Homo sapiens: one gene and its partners. The protein of the gene in region 4 purifies or fractionates together with the protein of the main gene of each other region. This does not show direct contact. Each region holds a gene or a part of one and is shown on either strand. Other genes may lie near its edges.

Region 1 (3,500 bases), on a different chromosome or scaffold from region 4:
CGAAGCAGGGCAAGGCATTGCCTCACTCAGGAAGCGCAAGGGGTCAGGGAGTTCCCTTTCCTAGTCAAAGAAAGGGGTGACAGACGGCACCTGGAAAATCAGGTCACTCCCACCCGAATACTGCGCTTTTCCCACGGGCTTAAAAAACGGCGCACCAGGAGATTATATCCTGCACCTGGCTTGGAGGGACCTACGCCCACGGAGTCTCGCTGATTGCTAGCACAGCAGTCTGAGATCAAACTGCAAGGTGGCAGTGAGGCTGGGGGAGGGGCGCCCGCCATTGCCCAGGCTTGCTTAGGTAAACAAAGCAGCTGGGAAGCTCGAACTGGGTGGAGCCCACCACAGCTCAAGGAGGCCTGCCTGCCTCTGTAAGCTCCACCTCTGGGGGCAGGGCACAGACAAACAAAAAGACAGCAGTAACCTCTGCAGACTTAAATGTCCCTGTCTGACAGCTTTGAAGAGAGCAGTGGTTCTCCCAGCACACAGCTGGAGATCTGAGAACGGGCAGACTGCTTCCTCAAGTGGGTCCCTGACCCCTGACCCCTGAGCAGCCTAACTGGGAGGCACCCCCCAGCAGGGGAACACTGACACCTCATAGGGCCAGGTACTCCAACAGACCTGCAGCTGAGGGTCCTGTCTGTTAGAAGGAAAACTAACAAACAGAAAGGACATCCACACCAAAAACCCATCTGTACATCACCATCATCAAAGACCAAAAGTAGATAAAACCACAAAGATGGGGAAAAAACAGAGCAGAAAAACTGGAAACTCTAAAAAGCAGAGCGCCTCTCCTCCTCCAAAGGAACGCAGTTCCTCACCAGCAACGGAACAAAGCTGGACGGAGAATGACTTTGACGAGCTGAGAGAAGAAGGCTTCAGACGATCAAATTACTCTGAGCTACGGGAGGACATTCAAACCAAAGGCAAAGAAGTTGAAAACTTTGAAAAAAATTTAGAAGAATGTATAACTAGAATAACCAATACAGAGAAGTGCTTAAAGGAGCTGATGGAGCTGAAAACCAAGGCTCGAGAACTACGTGAAGAATGCAGAAGCCTCAGGAGCCGATGCGATCAACTGGAAGAAAGGGTATCAGCAATGGAAGATGAAATGAATGAAATGAAGCGAGAAGGGAAGTTTAGAGAAAAAAGAATAAAAAGAAACGAGCAAAGCCTCCAAGAAATATGGGACTATGTGAAAAGACCAAATCTACGTCTGATTGGTGTACCTGAAAGTGATGGGGAGAATGGAACCAAGTTGGAAAACACTCTGCAGGATATTATCCAGGAGAACTTCCCCAATCTAGCAAGGCAGGCCAACATTCAGATTCAGGAAATACAGAGAACGCCACAAAGATACTCCTCGAGAAGAGCAACTCCAAGACACATAATTGTCAGATTCACCAAAGTTGAAATGAAGGAAAAAATGTTAAGGGCAGCCAGAGAGAAAGGTCAGGTTACCCTCAAAGGGAAGCCCATCAGACTAACAGCGGATCTCTCGGCAGAAACTCTACAAGCCAGAAGAGAGTGGGTGCCAATATTCAACATTCTTAAAGAAGAGAATTTTCAACCCAGAATCTCATATCCAGCCAAACTAAGCTTCATAAGTGAAGGAGAAATAAAATACTTTACAGACAAGCAAATGTTGAGAGACTTTGTCACCACCAGGCCTGCCCTAAAAGAGCTCCTGAAGGAAGTGCTAAACATGGAAAGGAACAACCGGTACCAGTTGCTGCAAAATCATGCCAAAATGTAAAGACCATCGAGACTATGAAGAAACTGCATCAACTAACGAGCAAAATAACAAGCTAACATCATAATGACAGGATCAAATTCACACATAACAATATTAACTTTAAATGTAAATGGACTAAATTCTCCAATTAAAAGACACAGACTTGGCAAATTGGATAAAGAGTCAAGACCCATCAGTATGCTGTATTCAGGAAACCCATCTCACATGCAGAGACACACATAGGCTCAAAATAAAAGGATGGAGGAAGATCTACCAAGCAAATGGAAAACAAAAAAAGGCAGGGGTTGCAATCCTAGTCTCTGATAAAACAGACTTTAAACCAACAAAGATCAAAAGAGTCAAAAAAGGCCATTACATAATGGTAAAGGGATCAATTCAACAAGAAGAGCTAACTATCCTAAATATATATGCACCCAATACAGGAGCACCCAGATTCATAAAGCAAGTCCTGAGTGACCTACAAAAAGACTTAGACTCCCACACATTAATAATGGGAGACTTTAACACCCCACTGTCAACATTAGACAGATCAATGAGACAGAAAGTCAACAAGGAATTGAACTCAGCTCTGCACCAAGTGGACCTAATAGACATCTACAGAACTCTCTACCCCAAATCAACAGAATATACATTTTTTTCAGCACCACACCACACCTATTCCAATATTGACCACAGAGTTGGAAGTAAAGCTCTCCTCAGCAAATGTAAAAGAACAGAAATTATAACAAACTATCTCTCAGACCACAGTGCAATCAAACTAGAACTCAGGATTAAGAATCTCACTCAAAACCGCTCAACTACATGGAAACTGAACAACCTGCTCCTGAATGACTACTGGGTACATAACGAAATGAAGGCAGAAATAAAGATGTTCTTTGAAACCAACGAGAGCAAACACACAACATACCAGAATCTCTGGGACACATTCAAAGCAGTGTGTGGAGGGAAATTTATGGCACTAAATGCCCACAAGAGAAAGCAGGAAAGATCCAAAATTGACACCCTAACATCACAATTAAAAGAACTAGAAAAGCAAGAGCAAACACATTCAAAAGCTAGCAGAAGGCAAGAAATAACTAAAATCAGAGCAGAACTGAAGGAAATAGAGACACAAAAAACCCTTCAAAAAATTAATGAATCCAGGAGCTGGTTTTTTGAAAGGATCAACAAAATTGATAGACTGCTAGCAAGACTAATAAAGAAAAAAGAGAGAAGAATCAAATAGACGCAATAAAAAATGATAAAGGGGATATCACCACCAATCCCACAGAAATACAAACTACCATCAGAGAATACTACAAACACCTCTACGCAAATAAACTAGAAAATCTAGAAGAAATGGATAAATTCCTCGACACATACACTCTCTGAAGACTAAACCAGGAAGAAGTTGAATCTCTGAATAGACCAATAACAGGATCTGAAATTGTGGCAATAATCAATAGCTTACCAACCAAAAAGAGTCCAGGACCAGATGGATTCACAGCCGAATTCTACCAGAGGTACAAGGATGAATTGGTACCATTCCTTCTGAAACTATTCCAATCAATAGAAAAAGAGGGAATCCTCCCTAACTCATTTTATGAGGCCAGCATCATCCTGATACCAAAGCCAGGCAGAGACACAACCAAAAAAGAGAATTTTAGTCCAATATCCTTGATGAACATTGATGCAAAAATCCTCAATAAAATACTGGCAAACCAAATCCAGCAGCACATCCAAAAGCTTATCCACCATGATCAAGTGG
Region 2 (3,500 bases), on a different chromosome or scaffold from region 4:
TCAATAAATAAATCCTTTTCTCAGGAGATCAAAGACTGAAATATTTTTTCAATGGCGTCCCACCATCAGCTAAATAAAATGAAGTTTTATTTTAGATTGATATTTCAGACTTTCTAGGATCTGGTCAATGATGTTTATACCCTCATTTGACACTACTTTTCCTCAAGTAATTCAAATATTTGTCAAAAACTACTTGAAAAGTAGTGTCAAATGAGGCTATAAACTGTTTTCCATACACATCCTAGGCTTTCTAACTATGTGTCTTTACTCAGGGTGTTCCCTAGGCCGAAACTGACTTTTTCTTATACTTCTGCATGTCTCAACCCTACTGGATACTTCAAAGGCAGCTTGAGGAAGCTGCCTTCTCTGATCTTTTCATCTCTGAACTCCGACAGGGCTTTGGTGTAGTTTTCCCATGGATTTTATCACATAGTCTTATATCATAGTTATCTGTGAACCCTACTAGTTGGTCAGGGAGCTCCTTAAGGGAATAAGTAATTCTACCTCTGTATCCCTATTTTTAGCAGCATACTAGATCTGGAATTTGAACAGAGGGAGTCTGACTTGAAAATCCATTATTTTCTATTGCATAGATTAACCTCAAATTTTTAAGCCCACTTACTGATACTGGGCATCTTTGCTATATCTAATTTTACCTTAAAATAATATTGATTAAAAATCCTAGTACATCTTTCTGCATTCATAGAATTATTTGTTTAGGACAAATCCCTTGAGGTGGATAACTGGTTTAAGAAGTTATACATATTTTTAAGGTTTTTGATACATACTACCATGATATCTCCATATCTGTATTTCCCTTCACATGATTGTGGCTAGTTCTTAATACCACATGGATTTTTTTCTATCATCTACACTCAGAGATTAGAGTGTTTTGGTTAGCTTTTGATTACTTAATGTACAAGCAATCAATCAGAGTACAGTCTTAGAAAATTAGGTACCATGCTCTAATCCTTAATCTACTTGCACTATGTCTTTCGGTGTTTTCCTCTGATTTAATAAATTCTATTTACTATAGTAGCACAATTCTGACAAATAAAGTTTTCATATTTAGCATAAGGAGCCTGCATATCTTTTCAAAATCACCAACACAAAAAAGTAACCATTTTTTAGGAGATGGAGGTGAGAGCAAGAAAGGGGAAAAAGTAAAATTAACCTTTTCTTTCTAGAGGTAAAAGGTTAAGCTAATTTACTATATAAATTCATTAATATTCTGTGTGTGTGTGTGTGTGTGTGTGTGTGTGTGTCATATACAATTTTATGAGAGACCAAAAGCAAAATTAGAGTAGAAAGTTATTTACAAACCATTGGGAATTTAACTTTACATTACTTAATATTTTCTTTAGAAGATAGTTGCCATGTTTGTCCCCTTAAACACCATGTTGAAATGTGAACCCAAGTGGGGCCTAATGGAAGGTGTTTGGGTCATGGGGCAGATCCCTCATTAATGGCTTGGTTCCATCCTCAGAGCAGTGAATGAGTTCTCGCTATATTTGTTCCTACGAGAGCTGGTTGTTAAAAAAAAAAGCCTAGCACCTCCCAACCCCTTGCTTCCTCTCTGGCCCAGTGATCTTTACACACCAGCTCCAATCTGCCTTCTGACATGAACAGAAGCAGCCTGAGGCTTTGACCAGATGCTCAATCTTGCAGCCAGCAGAATCATGAGCCAAACAGGCCTTTTTTTCTTTATAAATTACTCAGTCTTAGGTATTCCTTAATAGCCACCCAAACAGACTAAAACAATAATAATTAAATACTGGATTTCTTCGTTTTGTTTTGTTGAGACAGAGTCTCGCTTTGTCGCCCAGTCTGGAGTGCAATGGTGTGATCTTGGCTCATTGCAACCTCCGCCTCCCAGGTTCAAGCAATTCTCCTGCCTCAGCCTCCCAAGTAGCTGGGATTACAGGCACCTGCCACCACACCTGGCTAGTTTTTCATATTTTTACTAGAGACGGGGTTTCACCATGTTGGCCAGGCTGGTCTTGAACTCCTGACCTCAGGTGATCCACCCACCTTGGCCTCCCAAAGTGCTGGGATTACAGGCAAGATTTTATTTTTTTTTTAAATATAACTACACACTGCTCCATAATCAAACACATACACAGACACAAATATATGTCCATATATATATATATATATATCTACATACACAGAAACACGTTTGAGTTTAAAAGATTTAAAGATTTAAAGTTGATTGGAAAAGGAAATAAATCTTTTATTTATTAAAGAAAATTCTTTTTCTTAAAACAAACAAACAAAAACGCAGAATGTGCAAGTCTGTCACATAGGTTTACGTGTGCCATGGTGGCTTGCTGCACCTATTGACCTGTCCTCTAAGTTCCCTCCCCTCACCCCCAACCCCAGAAAAGGAAATAATTCTATTTTTACCTTATTCTAACATTATTTATTTGATGATATATAATTCATTCAATAAATACTTGTAAGTGAATTAATTTAGTCATTATTCCCACTCACCCATCCCAAATCTGTTTCTTCCTCGTGTAATGCCAACAGTATCCTCCTAGACACCCAGACTAAAAATCTCAGTCATCTTTAGCTACTTTCTCCCTATGTCTCTTCTCTCTACTCATTCACTAAATCTTCTTGATTCTAGCTCTTTTTTGAAATAAAACTTAAACATATAAACAAAAAAATAAGATAACCTGGCAGGCATGTTCTGTGGCCCATTCTTCATCCAAGTTATCCAACTTAGCTTTGGGATGTTTGAGGTTCTCACTTTGCTCCTCTTTGGGTGGCGTTCTAGTGGCAAGAATCACATAATCCTTTTGTGACGAACACTTCAACAACAAATTAAAAAGCTTGTTAGAGTGATATCTGATTCCTCAATCTAATTAGAGTGATACCTAAATTCCTTAGCTTTTATGACATGCAAAAACTGAGTAATATTTGTAACAGGTTAAATCATTAATACCCACATTATAATGGAAGCTAAAGGGAAGCTAATTTTCAAGGATGGCCTTACAATCTTTCCCTCACATGTTGTTTATCTTTTAATGTATTTAATATCAGCTTCTTATTTATTTGGACAACTCAAATGTAAATCATGGAGTGGTCCCTAAAAATGGTTTACTGGATGAGTGAATGAATTACATTAACTAAAAAGTAATATGCTTATTCAGTTTTCTAGTTATATTTGTTTTATAAGTTATAAATGAACAGATCGGAAAATATTAGTAAAATGAAACAACAAGTGACCTTTTGTATCTTATTTTAATTGAAATGATGACAGTAGGGAACTTCCACATACATTTCCACAGAATAACAAAGGGGATTTGGGACACAATTTAAAGTGATACAGATTCTATGTTCCTCAAGTTTTTTGTTTTGTTTTGTTTTTTGTTCTTTGTGTGTGTGTGTATTTATTTATTTATTTAGAGACAGGGTCTTGCTCTAATGCCCAGGCTGGAGTGCAGTGGTGTGATCATAGCTCACTGCAACCTTGCACTCCTGGGCTCAAGCAA
Region 3 (2,404 bases), on a different chromosome or scaffold from region 4:
TGGGGTCCACCTAGACATGGCTCTGGCCAGCTCTCCTGCCGCTTCCAGAATTCTCTGGAGAATGTGACCCTGTGATTATCACACCAAACCTCACTTCAGATCCTCCAGGAATGGTTACAAATTGTCCAGACGTGGTGGAGAATAGGACACCGCCCTTGTGCTTAAGGACATGCAATAATGATGTCATCTGCCAGGTAGAACATTACAGGGTGGTTTACAGGCACTTAAAGCAGCACGACCTTGGGCGAGTCGGTAAGCTCTCCCAGCCCTGTTCCCCTCCTCACCCGGAAAGTGTGAACTCTACCTGGCTCAGATCCAGGGTGCTACGAAGGGGATATCCTACACTCCTTGGCTGAATCCAGGATGCCCAGCTCTTTAGGGGCCAGATGTCAAGGTCTGCAGGCTTCTCCCTGCCTGCTGCTCCCGAGGTCCAGCTCCTCGACCCTGCCCGGAGCACCCCTCCTACACCCATCTCCCCTCCAGCCACACTCAAGTCAAGGTCAGAAGTAAAAGATTTTTATTGTTCTATAGACACTTCTGAAAAGAGATCTAATTGAGAAAATATACAAAGCATTTAAGAGTTTCATCCCCAGAGACTGACTGAAGGCGTTACAGCCCTCCTCTCCAAGGCTCAGGGCTGAGAACGGTTAGCATATCGAATGATCAGTAAAAACATGCAAAAGTGAGAAGGAAAGGGAAAAAGGTGCATTCCCCTAAGCTGAGGGGGATGGAATTTCAGAACAGAGGAGGCAGGGTGGACAAGTACCAGGTGGCTCTCCCTTTCCCTCTGTGTTATCTTTCAAAACAGTTCCAAGCTTGGAGAAAGCAATGAGCTCCACCTACTCAGCAGAACCCACGGCTCGTCCCCCGTGGACGTGACTGAGCAGTGACCTTGCCTGCCCCGTTCCTCAGCCGCCCATCCCACTGCCTTGACTGAGGGGACCCTGCTTGTGCTCCTGGGGGGCAGGACTGGGGGTCCTAGCTCCTTGCTTCTTTGGTTCCACTCAGAGAACAGTTGTGCTTGACGGACTCATCCCCACTCCCCAAACTCCAAGCTCCTGCTGGTGGGCTGAAGGCACTGACAGAGTCCCTGGGACACCCCCAGGTAGCCACCTTCTCTTGTGCTCTGGTGGGTCCCTCCCTGGGCACATCGTCCCATCCTCAGCTCAAGCCCCAGGTCTAGGAATAGGGACAGTGAAGAAAGTGTACCCTCCAAGAAAAAGCTTCTGAGGACTTTTCTAATTGTGCAGATACTTCTGAAGCCCATGCCGCCCCGCCCCCACAGCCCCATCCCCTTGCCCAGGGCCTCACATGCCCGGCTCCCCCAACCGGTCCTTCCCCTTGGGCTGCCGGTGCAGCTGTGGGCCCAGGCTTTGGCAGGCCCAGCTTCAAGACAGTGGGACACAGAAAACACTTTGCAGCATCGCCTCTCCCTCCGCCACACCCAGGTCAGCAGAGATGGGCCCCCCACCGAGAGATCACAGCTCTGGTACAGGGAGGTGGGCAGGGTTGGAGAGGAATGGAGAGACATGTCACCTCTATAGAAACGCGTCCAAAGTACAAGCTAAGCAGGGGGAAGGAGGAGGGCCAGAGAGCAGCCGGAAAGAAGAAAAGAGGAACACGGCAGGGGGTTCTGGGGGAGGAGGGCCTCACACCACCCCGCAGATGAGCGTCTCCACCACGAAGGTGTTCTCGAAGTGGCGGATGGCATTGCAGTTCTTGGCCCCACGCTTGTTGATCCCTGGGAGGAAAAAGAAAAACCCCAGTGAGCCCTGCATCCTGGCTGAGTCACAAAGACCACCAGCCTCAGCCTGAGCCACAGGAGGGCCAGGAAGTGACACCATTCACCCAGATTCACCCAAAGAGCACAGTGAGAAATGGGGAGAGCTCGAAAGCTGGAGTCAGCCTGCCCATGTCTGCCACCTCCCTGCTGTGTGACCTCCAGGGTGTTAACCTCTCTGCACCTGTTTCCTCATCTTTAAAATGGGCAGCAAAAATAATAATGAGGATGAGAATGACTTACACTCTTAAGAGGTCATAAAGAGCACACAGCATTGCCCGGCACACGGAAGTGCTCTGCTAATGCTAGCTGTTATTGCTGCTGCTATCTGAGCTCTCTGACAGCTGGGCTAGGCGTGAAGATAACTGTGGTCTGGGGCACGGGACAGGGGCTACTGTGGGTGAAGCCAGCCACTCACGCCTCCGCGTTGCCCGGCGCCGGAGCCGGTAGGTGTCTTTCCCGTTGCACAGGTGGTAGATGAAGGACCCCAGGGCCTCCTTGTCACTGACATGCTCCGTGACCACCATCTCCTCCTGGATGATGTACGTCTGCGGCAGGTAGGTCCCCCTCTGCAAAACAAGGTGGCCGCCACAGTGAGTCGGCCCCTCAGGCTTTCGTCCAACC
Region 4 (3,500 bases):
TTATTCCCCAGCCCCCGACAGGCCCAGGAGTGTGATGTTCCCCTCCCTGTGTCCATGTGTCCTTGTGGTTCAATTCCCACGTATGAGTGAGAACATGCGGTGTTTGGTTTTCTGTTCCTGTGTTTGTTAGTTTGCCAAGAATGATGGCTTCCAGCTTCATCCATGTCCCTGCAAAGGACATGATCTCATTCTTTTTTACAGCTGCATAGTATTCCATGGTGTATATGTACCACATTTTCTTTATCCAGTCTATCACTGATGGGCATTTGGGTTGGTTCCATGTCTTTGCTATTGTAAATGGTGCTACAATAAACATACGTGTTTACTGTATAAACATACGTTTCTATAGAATGATTTATGTTCCTTTGGGCATATGCCCAGTAATGGGATTGCTGGGTCAAATGGTATTTCTGGTTCTAGATCCTTGAGGAATCCCCACACTGTCTTCCACAACGGTTGAACTAATTTACACTCCCACCAACAGTATAAAAACTTTCCTATTTCTCCACAGCCTGGCCAGCATCTATTGTTTCCTGACTTCTTAATCATCACCATTCTGACTGGCGTGAGATCTCATTGTGGTTTTGATTTGCATTTCTCTAATGATCAATGATGATGAGCTGTTTTTCATGTTTCTTGGCTGTATGTCTTCTTTTTCTACAAGGAACTTAAATTTACAAGAAAAAAAAAACCCAATCAAAAAGTGGGCAAAGGATATGAAATACAATTATTTTATCCCTAATTCATGAAAGTAAATGACTCAAATACATTGTATAGCAATAAAGATATTTAAAATGAAATGCTTCACATGATTACTCTCCCAATCAAGCTTCATTAAACCCAATCAAAAAGGTACCAGGTAATTTCTACACAGAGTTCATCATCACTTCACAGACCTTTGGGAAATCTATGAAAATAGAAAAAACCAAAAACCTTGCTCTTTACTGTTTTCTAAGCACTTCTTATTCTTTAAACATTTACCAAGTCCCTACTACATACAAGACCTATGCCAAGGATCACAAACTGGCAGCCCAATGACTCTATCTCACTTCCAAGTGTGTTTTGCTTGATCCATGCAGTATTTTTAAATTAGATACTTTCATGAAAATTGTTTTATGGCTTTCTTCAAAAAAATATCAAAAGCTACGGCATCAGCAGGCTTGCATCCCTGTATGGCAACAGGCTGGGGCTGGGCAGCACTGTCCCGCCACATGAGCATGCACCTCCTGGCGCTTCTCCCCGCTCTTCACTTCCAAATGCCCTCCACGTCCCAGCTGCTCATTCATTTTAGTTATTCCTCTACACCCTGAGTTCATCTGAGTTTGCAACCCTCTTCCATGACTAATAAATTCTGTATCTTACTATTAATCTACACATCTCAGGATCATGCAGTCCTAATGTCTAATATCTCCAAATCAAACATTTTAAAAATAAACTTAAAAAAAAACACCGTTTAAAAGCTAGTTATAAAGTTTACATAAGCAACTTATTTAGTGTTGACTTGCTGTATCTTAAGGTAGGCTCCACACTGACATCTCATGGGTGGTTTACAAATCTGCCTATTCAGTCCCTTGCTAAGTTGACAAATTCATTAGGATACCCTTAACAAAACTGGTCTCATTTTCGCCAACCCCAAAACATAACTTTATTATTTAGCTATGGAAACTAACAATAACACAGACTGAAAGACACTGTATGAAATAAGACTGCTATCATTCACTCAAGCAGAATGAAATGCTAATGCATTTCCAAACCTCAGTGAAAAAATAAAAACAATACTTTTTTTGTTATAAAACCAAAAGTCAATGAAAGAATCCGAGTCTACAATATCTGCTGAAAAATATCTGAATGAACAGGGGAGGTAAACCTAACAAAATCTCTCTCAGACACATTAGTCCTGAGGGTCATTTTGGCTTTTAAAGAATACAACTGAACCTTGAACAGCAGAGATTTAAACTGTGCTGGTCCAATTATACGCAGACTGTCTTGCTCCTCTGCCACCTGAGACAGCAAAACCAACCCCTCTTCTTCCTCCTCCTCCTCTTCCTCCTCCTCAGCCCAAACGTGAAGACTATGATGAGGATGAAGAGCCCTATGATGCTCTACTTCCACTTAAAGAACACTAAATATATTTTCTCTTCCTTACGATTTTCTTAATATTTTCTTTTCTCTAGCTTTATTCTAAGAATACAGTATAAAACATATTCCATACAACATACAACATATGTACTAACTGACTGTTTATATTATTTATAAGACTTCCAGTCAGTAGTAGGGTAGTGGCTCACGCCTATAATCCCAGCACTTTGGGAGGTTGAGGCAGAAGTATCACTTGAGCCCAGGAGTTTGAGCCCAGCCTGGGAAAAACAGCGAGAACCAGTCTCTACCAAAAAAATTAAAAAATTAGCAGGGCATGGTGACATGCACCTATAGTCCCAGCTACTCAGGAGGCTGAGGTGGGAGGATCGCCTGAGCCCAGGAGGTTGAGGCTGCAGTAAGCCATGATTGTGCCACTGCAATCCAGCCTGGGCAACAGAGCAAGATCCTGTCTCAAAAAAAAAAAACAAAAACAGGCTATTAGTAAAGTTTTTGGGGAGTAAAAAGTTATATGTAGAGTTTCAACTGCACAAGGGGTTGGCATCCCAACCCTTGGGTAGTTCAAGGGTCAACTGTATTTCCTCCCCAAATATACCTACCCACTAATTACATATATAATGTGAATCTACAACATAAAAGCATTTGGGAGGATAAAAAAACCACAGGAACTATTCGTCATGAGTTTTACCCAGTAGATAGAGCAAAAAATACATTAGAAGGCAGTAAAAATGGCATCCGAGTCCTATTTGTTGTTTAAAAATTAGCAACTACATCTTCCTGTTTTTGCGTAAAATCAAGTGAGGCTGTGAGTAAGAGGTCCAACCACAATATTGATACTTCTCCATAAAAAATGATGAGCTGCCTACTTGAAAGTTATACCCTCCACCATAAATATGCCTATTTTCAATGGCTGTGTGCCAGTGGAGCAAACAGGATATGAAATCACAGCAGTCATCAAGTGACAGAACCAAAGGTTGATCCAACAAGTTTCTGTGGCTTCCCTTGTGCATATGTCTACAAAATGGCACTCCCCAAGCCTTTCTGGTGAATCAGTGTGAAGGTTTGTATGACAAATTGGTAGAAATTTTAGCCCACAGAATTGTGGACCACGTAGCTCAGGGGTCCTGTGCTCCCAACAGTGTCCAAAGGCATTTAATTTAAATATAAGACAATGCCAGAAAGCATTTTCCTTCATCTGTTTCCCTATCCACTAAGTTAATTTTCTTTCATTCAAAGTAGTGCCTTTCCAACCCTCAAATTAAATAGATACTTGAGCAATGGAAATGATGCCTGAATAATAACTTTTGATGAAGATTCAAGTCTTAGTACAGCTGTTGTAATATAAACTGAGGCTGTGAGAATTAGAGTGTTTGAGCATTTCTTAAACAGGCATGAAGTACACT
Region 5 (3,500 bases), on a different chromosome or scaffold from region 4:
AAAGTTAAGCAACCTGCTCAAAGTCACACAGTTTGAAAGTGGCAGAGCCAGGATTCAAACACAGGCTGTCTGGTTGCAGAGTCTGGCTCTTAGGCATTATACTATGCCACTTGATCGTACCATTTCCCCCTCTGAGCTTACTACCGATTTCACTAATTATGACATATCCTGATTAAGCTGACTAATTTTTCATGTTTAATAGCAACCCAGCCTGCTTCTAAGCTCTCTAAGCACAAAGACTTAATCTATGGCTTCTCTCAAGCTACCCTCTCAGTGCATTATATAATAGTAGCTGTTGCTGACAGATAACTTGACTGATCTGCTTACTATCTTCCACAAATGCTTCTATTTGTTGGCATTAACAATTTCACATCTGTTTCACAAATGTGCAGAAAAGGGTTCATGTAGTAGGCCTGAGGCTGCTATCCTTAGAAAGGCCTGCTTGCAAGGTTAACCCTTGCCTGGCATCTGAGAAGTTGGACTTTGGCAGAGTTCATGCCATCCTAATTGATAAAAACAGCTCGCCGTGCCTGAACTGTTTTGCAAAACATGCGGTTTGAATGCAGTTCAGTGCTGAGCACCTGCTTTCCTCCTGGGAGTCTAGAGTTTCGGTAGATGCCAGGTGTGAGGTGCCTATGTGACCAGCCCCTAACAGAATCCTTGGGCAATGAGTTACTAATGAGCTTCCCTGGTAGACAACACTTCACGTGTTGTCATAGGTCACATGCTGTGTGACTCCACTGGGAGAGTACTCTTAGAAGCTCATGCCTGGTTTCCTCTGGACTTTTGTCCCACATGCCTTTTCCTTTGCTGTTTTGCTTCGTATCCTTTCAGTGTGACAAATCATAGCCAGGAGCAGGACTGTATGTTGAGTCCCATGAGACCTCTTAGTGAATCCTAGAACCAGAGAGTAGTGCTGGGGACCCCTGACACAGTAAGAATTTAAAAAATGTGGGCCAGACATGGTGGCTCACGCCTGTAGTCCAGCACTTTGGGAGGCAGGGGGATTGCCTGAGCCCAGGAGTTTGACAGCAGCCTGGGCAACATAGTGACATCCCACCCTTATAAAATAAAATTAAAAAATAGGCAGACATGGTAGCACATGCCTGTAATCCCAGCTACTCGGAAGGCTAAAGTGGGAGGATTGTTTGAGCCCAGGAGGTCGTGCCACTGCACTCCATCCTGGGAGACAGGGTGAGACCCTGTCTCAAAAACAAAAAAAACAAAAAAAAACAAAAAAGAAAATGTGTCCCCAAACAGTTATGTGATGTTATCTTCTGAAAGAACATCCTAAAACCTTTCTAAAGCTAGTCTAGAAATGGTCCAGGTTTGGATACTTGCTCACTGATGTATTCCATCTCCAAGACTGGCTGAGTTGCAGCGGGAACGACTGTGAGGACACAGCTCTTGCATTCCAGATGCTCATGTGAGCCCAGAGGGGAAACCAGGCAGGCGCCATGGAAAATACAGGAGCCTGGCCCTCCTGCTTCCTGTGGCCTTGGATGAGTCATTTACCCTGCTGGAGCGTCAGCGTCCTTACCTGCTGACAGGGCTCCTAATAGTGCCTGCATGGGACAGGTAGTGGGGTTGGAGGGAGGTGTGCACTCAGAGCATGTGGCATCGAGCAAGTCTGTCACAGGTGACCTGAGGACAGCCTTGTGGTGGCCTGCTTGTTGTGCCCTCGCTCTTCTCTCAGGAATACACTTTCAGGGACGACAAGAAGGGGTATGGGGGTCAAAGAGATTGAGGTAAAATGGCTCAAGATGTGCCAGCCTCATCGGGTTAAGAGACAAAATGGGCAAGAGCACAGATTTTGGACCAACAGCCTAGGCTCAAACCCCAGCTATGCTACCTGTGGGACTGTGGGATCTAGGGTGAGTGGCCAAGCCTCCTGAGCCTCAACTTCCTCATTTGTAAAATGAGGGAGGAAACAGTACCTGCCTCATGGGGGTTTGTTGTGGGCCAATAAAGTGGCTGGCATGCTGCCTGGCACACAGTGAGTGCCCGGTAGCGCCAGCTATGGCATTTTGCGAAGAAGTTCAAACACGGTACATTGCATAGGGTAAGTGCTCTACAAACTTTAACTGCTATTATTAGTAGTACTATTATTAATTAAGAAACACCAATGAAAGCAATACTTACAATCTTTTCTTATCCACCACTCTTTTAACTCGGATGGCTCTCTGTTCTGAGTAAAGTTTACATACTCCTGTTGCAGAAGAAAATACCAGAAGAGAGACTGCTTAAAACAGCTTCTCAGGCAAAGCCATCATTAAATATAATGAGATACTACAGTCTTCAGCTAGCAAAGCTAAATTCTGCATCACATCTATTGTGAAATGTTACATTTGACCTTTAAAAGAAAATGAAATACTTTTCAAGTAATCTTCAATGAAATCCAAAACAGCGGTCCTGTGCTCCTTCACTTGCTGGGAATGTATCTCCTTGTGAGCTGTAACAGAAAAAGACAATGTTCAGGCCTTCGCACTCAATTATCCTAAAGAGCAATTCATCAGCTTCCTCACAACACTTTCTTTATTGAGAGTATTTTTTAAAACACAGCTATAAAACAAGTCTTGTGCCAAGTGACACTACATTTTTAAAACAGTAAGATGTATCAGGCTTCGCAAGAGTGAAAGATTAAACCTGTAGAAAATCTATAGTCAAATAATTTATGGTTTATCAGAACACTTAAGGATAGTATTTGACGCAGCCACTTCTTGAGTGCTGACCCCATCTGTGTTAACAGCATCCAATGCTCAAGCTGACCTTCAGCGAACATGTTTAAACAACTGAAATCACACACTCCTCCCTGCTTGAACCTGTGCTGCTTTTCAGCCTGTAGTGCCCCATCCTCTCCCCTTGGCCACTCACATTCTAAGGGTCCCTTAGACAATGAGTCAAACTTTCTGTCTCCAGGAAACCTATGACTCCTAGCCACAAAGATGCCTTTCTCCTGGGAACTACCACACAGAAGTGTGCTAAAAGGCCTTACCAGACCTAAAGTCTGTGCCACTGGTTTTGGTAAGATAGTGACCACTGACTGAGAGACTGAGTGCCTACTGCGTGCAGGTACTCTGCTAGCACTTTACATATGTACTGCTAGTAATTACAATAGCAATTCCGAGTTTCCTGATTTTTACACGTGAAGAAACTAAGGTTCAGAGGCAATAAATAGCCCAAGGTTAGATGGTTTCATATGTAAATGTAGGTTTTGTTAAATATTCCTGTGCATTTTTTAGGTCTCTCAATGAATGTATATGCCCTTAAGGGTAGAGGGCATGATTTCTGCCTTACTATAGGGCTGCTTAACCCAAGATTTGTGTGGGGGACTCAGGAGCTCTGTGAAATTGCATATAGAATTTTGTGTATGTACATTTTTCTGGCAAGAATGCCTATTGCTTCCATCAGAGTCTCCAAGTGGTCCGTCAGCATTCTAATAAAAACCTCCCCAACAAAAGTCTGTGTTGTGAGCACAACAGCATCTGGCAGCTTTGAAC
Region 6 (3,500 bases), on a different chromosome or scaffold from region 4:
TGCATAAATAAATAAAGTTAAATGTATTTGGCCAGTTGTGATGGCTCACACCTGTAATCCCGGCACTTTGGGAGGCCAAGGTGGACAGGTTACTGGAGGCCAGGAGTCCAAGACCAGCCTGGCCAATGTGGCAAAACTCTGTCTCTACTAAAAATACAAAAAGTAGCCGGGCATGGCGGTGCACACCTGTGGTCCCAGGTACTCGGGAGACTGAGGCATGAGAATCACTTGAACCTAGGAGGTGGAGGTTGCAGTGAGCCAAGATCATGCCACTGCACTCCAGCCTGGGCGACACAGCAAGGCTCTGTCTCAAACACAGAAAAACTAACCCCTGCAATGGCTCCCTATGTCACTCAGAGTAAAAGCTAAAGCCTACCAATGGTCCCAAGAGGTCTCACAGTTCCCCTCTGACCACACCTTGTACAACTCTCTTCCTCATTGATCCCAGCTGCAGTAGTCTCTGCTGTCCTTTAACTCATCAAACATATTGTCACCTGCGGGCCTTTGCCAGGGTCTATGTAGCTAATTTCCTCACCTTCTCCCAAGTGTGATGCCACCTTCTTAATAGGGCCTACCTCCCTCCAAACCTGGCACTCCTGATTAGTTTATCCTGTGTTGACTATCTTTTTTTTTTTTTTTGGCATTTACGACCTTTTTTTTTTTTAACATACTATTTATTATGACTTTTTCACATCTATCTCCCTATTAGGATACACGTTCCACAAGGGCAAGGATTTTGTCTCTTTTGTCCACTGCTATATTCCCATAACTGACTGACTGAATGCTAAGCACCACAGAGGAGGAGCAGATAAAAACTCTTGTAGTAGCAGGAGGCACCAGAGGAACAGAGAGGCCAGCCCATTGTTGGGCCTCTGCCTACATCCCTCCAGTACACCCTGTACTTCTCTATCCCTGTTCATTACTTTCTAGCCACGCAGGCCTTCTTGATTCTTGCTATGGTGAGACTGTCCCATCACAAGGCTTTGCTCTAGCTGTCTCCTCGGCCTAGAACACTCTCTGTTCTTTGCCTGGTTGGATCCCTCTTGTCATTCAAGTCTCTGCTTAAATGTCATGTCTTCAGAGCAGCATTCCCTACCACACAATCTGATATACCTACTTAGTCACTTTCTTTTTTTTTTTTGAGATGGGGTCTTGCTCTGTCACTCAGACTGGAGCGCAGTGGTTCCATCATGGCTCACTGCAGCCTCAACCTCCCATGCTTAAGTCATCCTCCCGCCTCAGCCTCCCGAGTAGCTGGAACCACAGGCACACGCAACCATGTCCAGCTAATTTTTTTATTTTTGTAGAGATGGGGTTTCACCATGTTGCCCAGGCTGGTCTTGAACTCCTGAGTTCAACTGACTGTGTGGGCCTCCCAAAGTGCTGGAATTACAGGTGTAAGCCACCGTACCCATCCATTACTTTCTTAACACATCATCCTATTTTAACTCTGTATACAGCCTTTATTACTCCCTGAAATTTTGTTGGTCAATTTTTTATTTTTATTTTTTTGACACAGAATCTGGCTCTGTCACCCAGGCTGGAGTGCAGTGGCACGATCTTGGCTCACTGCAACCTCTGCCTCCCAGGCTCAAGCCATCCTCCCACCTCAGCCTCTCGAGTAGCTGGGACTACAGGCCCATGCCACCATGCCCAGCTAGTTTTTGTATTTTTTTGTAGAGACAGGGTCTTGCTTTGTTGCCCAAACTGGTCTTGAATTCCTGAACTCAAGCGATCTGCATTGCTCGGCCTCCCAAAGTGCTGCCTATGGGATTACAGGTGTGAGTCACTGTGCCAGCCTTGTCAGTTCTTTTCCACAGCTGTCCTCATCTGCCCTATCAAATTCCATACACTTACACATGCTACAAAGCAGCTCCAGACAGACTTTACTGTTCTACTTGCCACTGTATCTCCCGCACCTGGAACAGTGCCTCACATGAACAGGTGCTCAATAAAAACTTGTTGGGTGGATGGAAGCAGGTGAACTGGGTCCCATGGGTGGGCAGAATTCACTCTATCTTCCAAAAGGCATCAAGCAGTCCCTGGGGACTTTAAGATGCCAATCCACGGGGAAGAGAAAGCTCCTCTGTTTGGGGCGAGAGAGTGTATCTCACCTCTGAATGGTTTCCTCCTGTTCCTTAACCATGTGTGCCAACTGCTGAAAGATGGAGCCCAACTCAACAATTGTCGACTCAATGTTCTGCATGGTGTCTGCCCGACTCTGGATGTAGGAATCCTTCAGGAGAGGGAGAGAGCACATGAGCACCAACAGCTTCTTCAGGGTCAGACCTGCATTTTTACAACCCTCCCAGCTTGCCATTCTGCCCATGGCACACTCCAAACACTCTCTCGGGAACCACAGAGGATAATGGAGAAGCTGATTCTACCTAGTTCAGAGCCTGGGTACCTGCTCGTCAATGAGCTGCAGCTGCTGGCTGGTCCGAGAGTCCATCATGTCGATGGCGACATCCTTGGAGGCATGGGACTCTGCCCCCAGAACCACAGCACCACCGCCTGGGGGAGAAAACAGGATGTGGCACACCTTAACAGTTAAAAGCAGGTTCAAAGCCCACATGCTCTGGGTTTGAATCCCAGCTCTAGCACTTACTAGCCTTGTGACCCTGGACAGGTCATTTAACCTCTCTGAGCCTCAGTTTCCTCACCTGTAAAATGGGGGATAATAATAGTTGCTTTCTCAAAGGGTGGTTGTGAAAATTAAATGAGAGAATGTGAATAAAGTGTACGAAAAAAAATTAGAAATTATCATTATTCTGAATATAACTGAATTCACCCCAACAGTGAGAATGTGGGAGTCTAAATGTGGATCACGAATCTCAACCATCTGGTTTGGCCTCTGAGAGATAAAGCCTAGAAAATTCCTTGACCTTCCACTCTCCTACCCAACCCGTGCCTTTAGAGGATGCCATCACAACCAGAGTAAGTAACCTTACCTCCCAGGGCTCCCCGTTTTACCTGTGACTTACCCAGGTGGTTAGGGGCAAGGGGCAGGGCTGACACAGGTGCCCGGGAGAACTGCTCTCTCCGGCTCCTCTGCTGCTTCAGGTTCTGGGGTTGGGGAAAAACGCAAAGGACCTGAAGCCACTAGAAAGCAGGCATGTTAAAGAGACTCCCACCATTGGCCCCATGACCCTGTAGAACTTGTCCCTTCTTCATTTCCCTCTTGGATCTTTACTCCCATATTCCTACCCCTCCTACGCAGATTGTTCTCACCTCTGTCCTCACTTCTAAAACCGATTTGAAGTCATTGGACATAGAAGCCAGTTTCGACTAGAAGAAAAGGAGAGAGGGTCAACCAAAGAAGGCTCCACATTCTTCCTCTTTGCCTCCCTCCCTTCCTCCCCAGGTCCCACCTGCAAGGAGACCACAATGGTGTTGGAGTGGGTCTGCAGGTGCCGGCCACTCTGGCTGCCCTTGGCTCTCACGAAATCCTGGAGCTGAGCAATTTGTTTGTTGAGGCTATTGATGTCCTGGTAAAAGAG
Region 7 (3,500 bases), on a different chromosome or scaffold from region 4:
TTAAATGATACATTACTTATCATTTAAAAAATATCTGCCTACTTACACTAATATGTGAGCTCAGTGAGTACATACACTGTGTCTTATCCATTTTTGGGCCCAAGCTTCTACAACACGCCTGGCACACGGTTAATATAAATGCTGCTGAATAAATGCTGAATGAATGAAGGAAGGAATAAAGGAATGAACAAACAAATGAAGGGTCCATATCATGGGACACAGGAAGAATGTGTCTAAATTTATAAACCTGCTATGATTACAGCCCAAGTATGTTATTTGATGACGCTAAGTTAAGGGTCAAAAAATAAAGATAAATAAATTACTAATATCATATAAATTCTTACTTATAGTGCTAAGAATGTATATGTCTTTTTTTATTAAAGAACTGGGTTTTTGTTTTTATTTTTTTGAGATTGGGTCACACTATGTTGCTCAGGTTGGTCTTGAACTTCTAGGCTCAAGTGATCCTCCTGCCTCAGCCTCCTGAGTAGCTGGGATTACAGTTGCACACCACCATGCCTGGCTCCAAACTGATGATATTTTTAAAAAATTAAGTGAGAGGAGATAGGGACAAGATAGAACCAACCCTCACCCAACAATTAGAGAATATATATTCTGCCCAAGCACAGATAGAAAAATTTATAACTTGACCATTGTGACAGGCTGAAAAGTGGCTCCCAAAAGGTATGTATGTCCTAATCCCTGGAACTTGTGAATGCACCCTCTGTGCCAAAAAGTAAAAGAAAAAAGGAAAGCAAAGGTATTCATAGACGTGATTAAGGATCTTAAGATGGGGAGGTTATCCTGGATCCTAGTGTGCCCTAAATGCAATCACATATATTCTTAAAAGAGAGGGGCATAGGAGGAGAAGGTAATGTGACTGAGGAGGCAGAGATCGGAATGATGGGGCCACAAACCAAAGGATGCTGGCAGCCATCAGATTAAGGAATGGATTCTCCCCAAGAGCCTATGGAGGGAAGGTGGTCCTGCTGACATTGTGATGTCAGCCCAGTGATACTACTTTCAGAACTCCAGAACTGAGACAATACATTTTTGTAGTTTTAAGCCATCAAATATGTTATTATTTTTTAGGGAACAAATACAAGTTTCAATAAATTTCAGAGTTAGTTTCACTTAGAATTCTTTCTGACCAGGAGGCAAGAGTCAGAAACCAGTTAAAACAAGAAGAAAAAAAAAGCAAAAAAGAAAAATAAATTCTGACATATTTGGACATTAACAAACACTTCTAAATAATACATGGACAAAAGAAAAACCATAATAGAAAAATATAAAAATACTTAGAAGTGAACAAAACTAAAATCCTTCAAATTAAACCTATAAGATACACTAAAAGCAGTGCTTTGCTTGAAATTTAAAAGCTTACATTAGAAAATAAGAAAGCTGTCCAGGCACGGTGGCTCATGCCTGTAATCCCAGCACTTTGGGAGGCCGAGTGGGTAGATCACCTAAAGTCAGGAGTTCGAGACCAGCCTGGCCAGCATGATGAAACCCTGTCTCTACTAAAAATACAAAAATTAGCCAGGCGTATGGCTATTGCCAGTAATCCTAGCTACTGGGGAGGCTGAGGCAGGAGAATTGCCTGAACCAGGGAGGCAGAGGTTGCAGTGAGCTGAGATCATGCCACTGCACTCTAGCCTGGGCAACCGAGCAAGACTCCATCTCAAAAAAAAGAAAGATTAGGCCGGGCGCAGTGGCTCACGCCTGTAATCCCAGCACTTTGGGAGGCTGAGGCAGGCAGATCACGAGGTCAGGAGTTTGAGACCAGCCTGGCCAATACGGTGAAACCCCATCTCTACTAAAAAATACAAAAATGAGCTAGGCGTGGTAGCACCCTCCTGTAATCCCAGCTACTTGGGAGGCTGAGGGAGGATAATCGCTGGAACCCAGGAGGCGGAGGTTGCAGTGAGCCAAGATTGTGCCACTGCACTCCAGCCTGGGCAACAGAGCAAGACTCCATCTCAAAAAAAAAAAAAAAGAAAGAAAGAAATATTAGCAATAAGCTAACATGTCCAACTTAAGAAGTTAGAAGAAAGACAATAAATCAAAGAAAGAGCAAAAAAAAAGAAAGTAAAGAGCAAAAATTAATAAAATCAAATACAGAAGTTATAATAGAGGGGGCCAACAAAGCCAAAAGTTTTTTTTTTTTTAAAAGACACAAGGCATAAAAATGATATGAAGAATGAAAAAGAAAATATTATGACTACAAGATATATTAAAACCTAGGTAAATAACTTATAAAAATCAAAAAGTCCTAAAGCTGTTACCAAAACTAAATTGGTTACTAAAAATCTTCTCACAAAGAAAATGCTACGCCAAAATTGTTTTACAGGCAAGTTTTACCAAATGACCAAGGAAAGATCATACCACTCTTATATAAACTTCTCTAAAAAACTAAAAAAGGAACATTAACCTAACTAATTTAGTAAACCAGTATATCACTAATAAAAAAACAAAATAAGAACAGTATGAGAGAAGAAAATTATAAGCCAGTATCATTCACGAACATAGATGCAAAAATCGTAAAATATTAGCAAATGGAATCCAGAGGGGAATAAAAAATAATGAGTCATAACCAAACCGAGTTTATTTCATGAATGCACATCTATATTGTTGAGAGATTTGTGCCAAAGTATTTAAGGGTAAATAATATATCTATAATTTTCCTTGAAATGGTTCAGAGGGGGAAAAAAGAGGGAGAAATGAAGCAGATATAGCAAAATGTTAACAACTGTTGCACATATGTATCGAGAGGTATAGGAATGTTCATTGTCTAAACAGCAAAAAAACTTGGAAAAAATCATAAAGATAATTAACTATGGTTAGACAAAATACCAGAGATGTTTGATATGTAATATTGAGTGAAAAAGCAAGCTGCAGAGACTACGTACAGAATGATACCATATTTATAAAACTCAGAACTATGCAATACTAAAAGCGACATTGCTGAGATTGATATGTAACATATACGCTGAAACTACTTTTTAAAAAGGAAGGAAATGATGAACACAAAACCCATAATAGTTCCTCCTGGAACTGTGTCGAGGAGGCAGAGGAGTGGGTAGGGAAAGAGCACAGACTGGTAAAGTTTTGCTTCTTAAATTAGGGAGGAGCTCCCTGGTATTCATTTCCCCACTGTGCTTTACAATTTGCATATGTTATATGTACATATCAAATATTACATGATAAATATGTAAAGTATATATTTTTCTTACGACCTTGTAATACAGATATAATGAACCTATTTTATTGTCAAAAAGCAATCAGTACTCATTCAATACCTTCTGTGTGTCCAGGTTCTTCTAAGGAACTATTCTTTTTGTGAGGAACTTTCTATGGAAGCTGGTTGGCCCACAGCTTTTGCAGATGATCTGCTGCCCTGAGTACACTCTAATGACCAAGACCACAAGTGGGCCCCTAACTCATCTAGGGTACGTACTGTATCGTATATGCATTTTTTTAATTCTTAAGATTTCCTCAAA

Evidence for each region.
Region 1: the proteins of NAPG (region 4) and PRKACB purify together in Homo sapiens (affinity purification with mass spectrometry; 3 studies listed by BioGRID and IntAct, with this or other methods). This does not show direct contact.
Region 2: the proteins of NAPG (region 4) and ODR4 purify together in Homo sapiens (affinity purification with mass spectrometry; one large-scale study listed by BioGRID and IntAct). This does not show direct contact.
Region 3: the proteins of NAPG (region 4) and ITM2C purify together in Homo sapiens (co-immunoprecipitation; one large-scale study listed by IntAct). This does not show direct contact.
Region 5: the proteins of NAPG (region 4) and STX18 purify together in Homo sapiens (co-immunoprecipitation; 2 studies listed by BioGRID and IntAct, with this or other methods). This does not show direct contact.
Region 6: the proteins of NAPG (region 4) and STX5 purify together in Homo sapiens (affinity purification with mass spectrometry; one large-scale study listed by BioGRID and IntAct). This does not show direct contact.
Region 7: the proteins of NAPG (region 4) and UFSP2 purify together in Homo sapiens (affinity purification with mass spectrometry; 2 studies listed by BioGRID and IntAct, with this or other methods). This does not show direct contact.

Annotation. Positions count from the first base shown.
Region 1 is NC_000001.11:84,231,271-84,234,770, reverse strand, and holds part of PRKACB (cAMP-dependent protein kinase catalytic subunit beta), read right to left. Parts: intron 1-3,500. UniProt on the Homo sapiens protein: Mediates cAMP-dependent signaling triggered by receptor binding to GPCRs.
Region 2 is NC_000001.11:186,382,338-186,385,837, reverse strand, and holds part of ODR4 (protein odr-4 homolog), read right to left. Parts: intron 2,817-3,500; coding exon 2,682-2,816; intron 1-2,681. UniProt on the Homo sapiens protein: May play a role in the trafficking of a subset of G-protein coupled receptors.
Region 3 is NC_000002.12:230,877,345-230,879,748, reverse strand, and holds the end of ITM2C (integral membrane protein 2C), read right to left. Parts: intron 2,350-2,404; coding exon 2,199-2,349; intron 1,742-2,198; coding exon 1,650-1,741; 3' UTR 501-1,649; downstream 1-500. UniProt on the Homo sapiens protein: Negative regulator of amyloid-beta peptide production. May inhibit the processing of APP by blocking its access to alpha- and beta-secretase.
Region 4 is NC_000018.10:10,536,027-10,539,526, reverse strand, and holds part of NAPG (gamma-soluble NSF attachment protein), read right to left. Parts: intron 595-3,500; exon of another isoform or gene 556-594; coding exon of another isoform or gene 553-555; intron 1-552. UniProt on the Homo sapiens protein: Required for vesicular transport between the endoplasmic reticulum and the Golgi apparatus.
Region 5 is NC_000004.12:4,455,049-4,458,548, forward strand, and holds part of STX18 (syntaxin-18), read right to left. Parts: intron 2,453-3,500; coding exon 2,375-2,452; intron 2,210-2,374; coding exon 2,143-2,209; intron 1-2,142. UniProt on the Homo sapiens protein: Syntaxin that may be involved in targeting and fusion of Golgi-derived retrograde transport vesicles with the ER.
Region 6 is NC_000011.10:62,822,052-62,825,551, forward strand, and holds part of STX5 (syntaxin-5), read right to left. Parts: intron 3,489-3,500; coding exon 3,372-3,488; intron 3,289-3,371; coding exon 3,232-3,288; intron 3,067-3,231; coding exon 2,985-3,066; intron 2,515-2,984; coding exon 2,408-2,514; intron 2,237-2,407; coding exon 2,115-2,236; intron 1-2,114. UniProt on the Homo sapiens protein: Mediates endoplasmic reticulum to Golgi transport.
Region 7 is NC_000004.12:185,408,965-185,412,464, forward strand, and holds part of UFSP2 (ufm1-specific protease 2), read right to left. Parts: intron 3,450-3,500; exon of another isoform or gene 1-3,449. UniProt on the Homo sapiens protein: Thiol-dependent isopeptidase that specifically cleaves UFM1, a ubiquitin-like modifier protein, from conjugated proteins, such as CD274/PD-L1, CYB5R3, DDRGK1, MRE11, RPL26/uL24, TRIP4 and RPL26/uL24.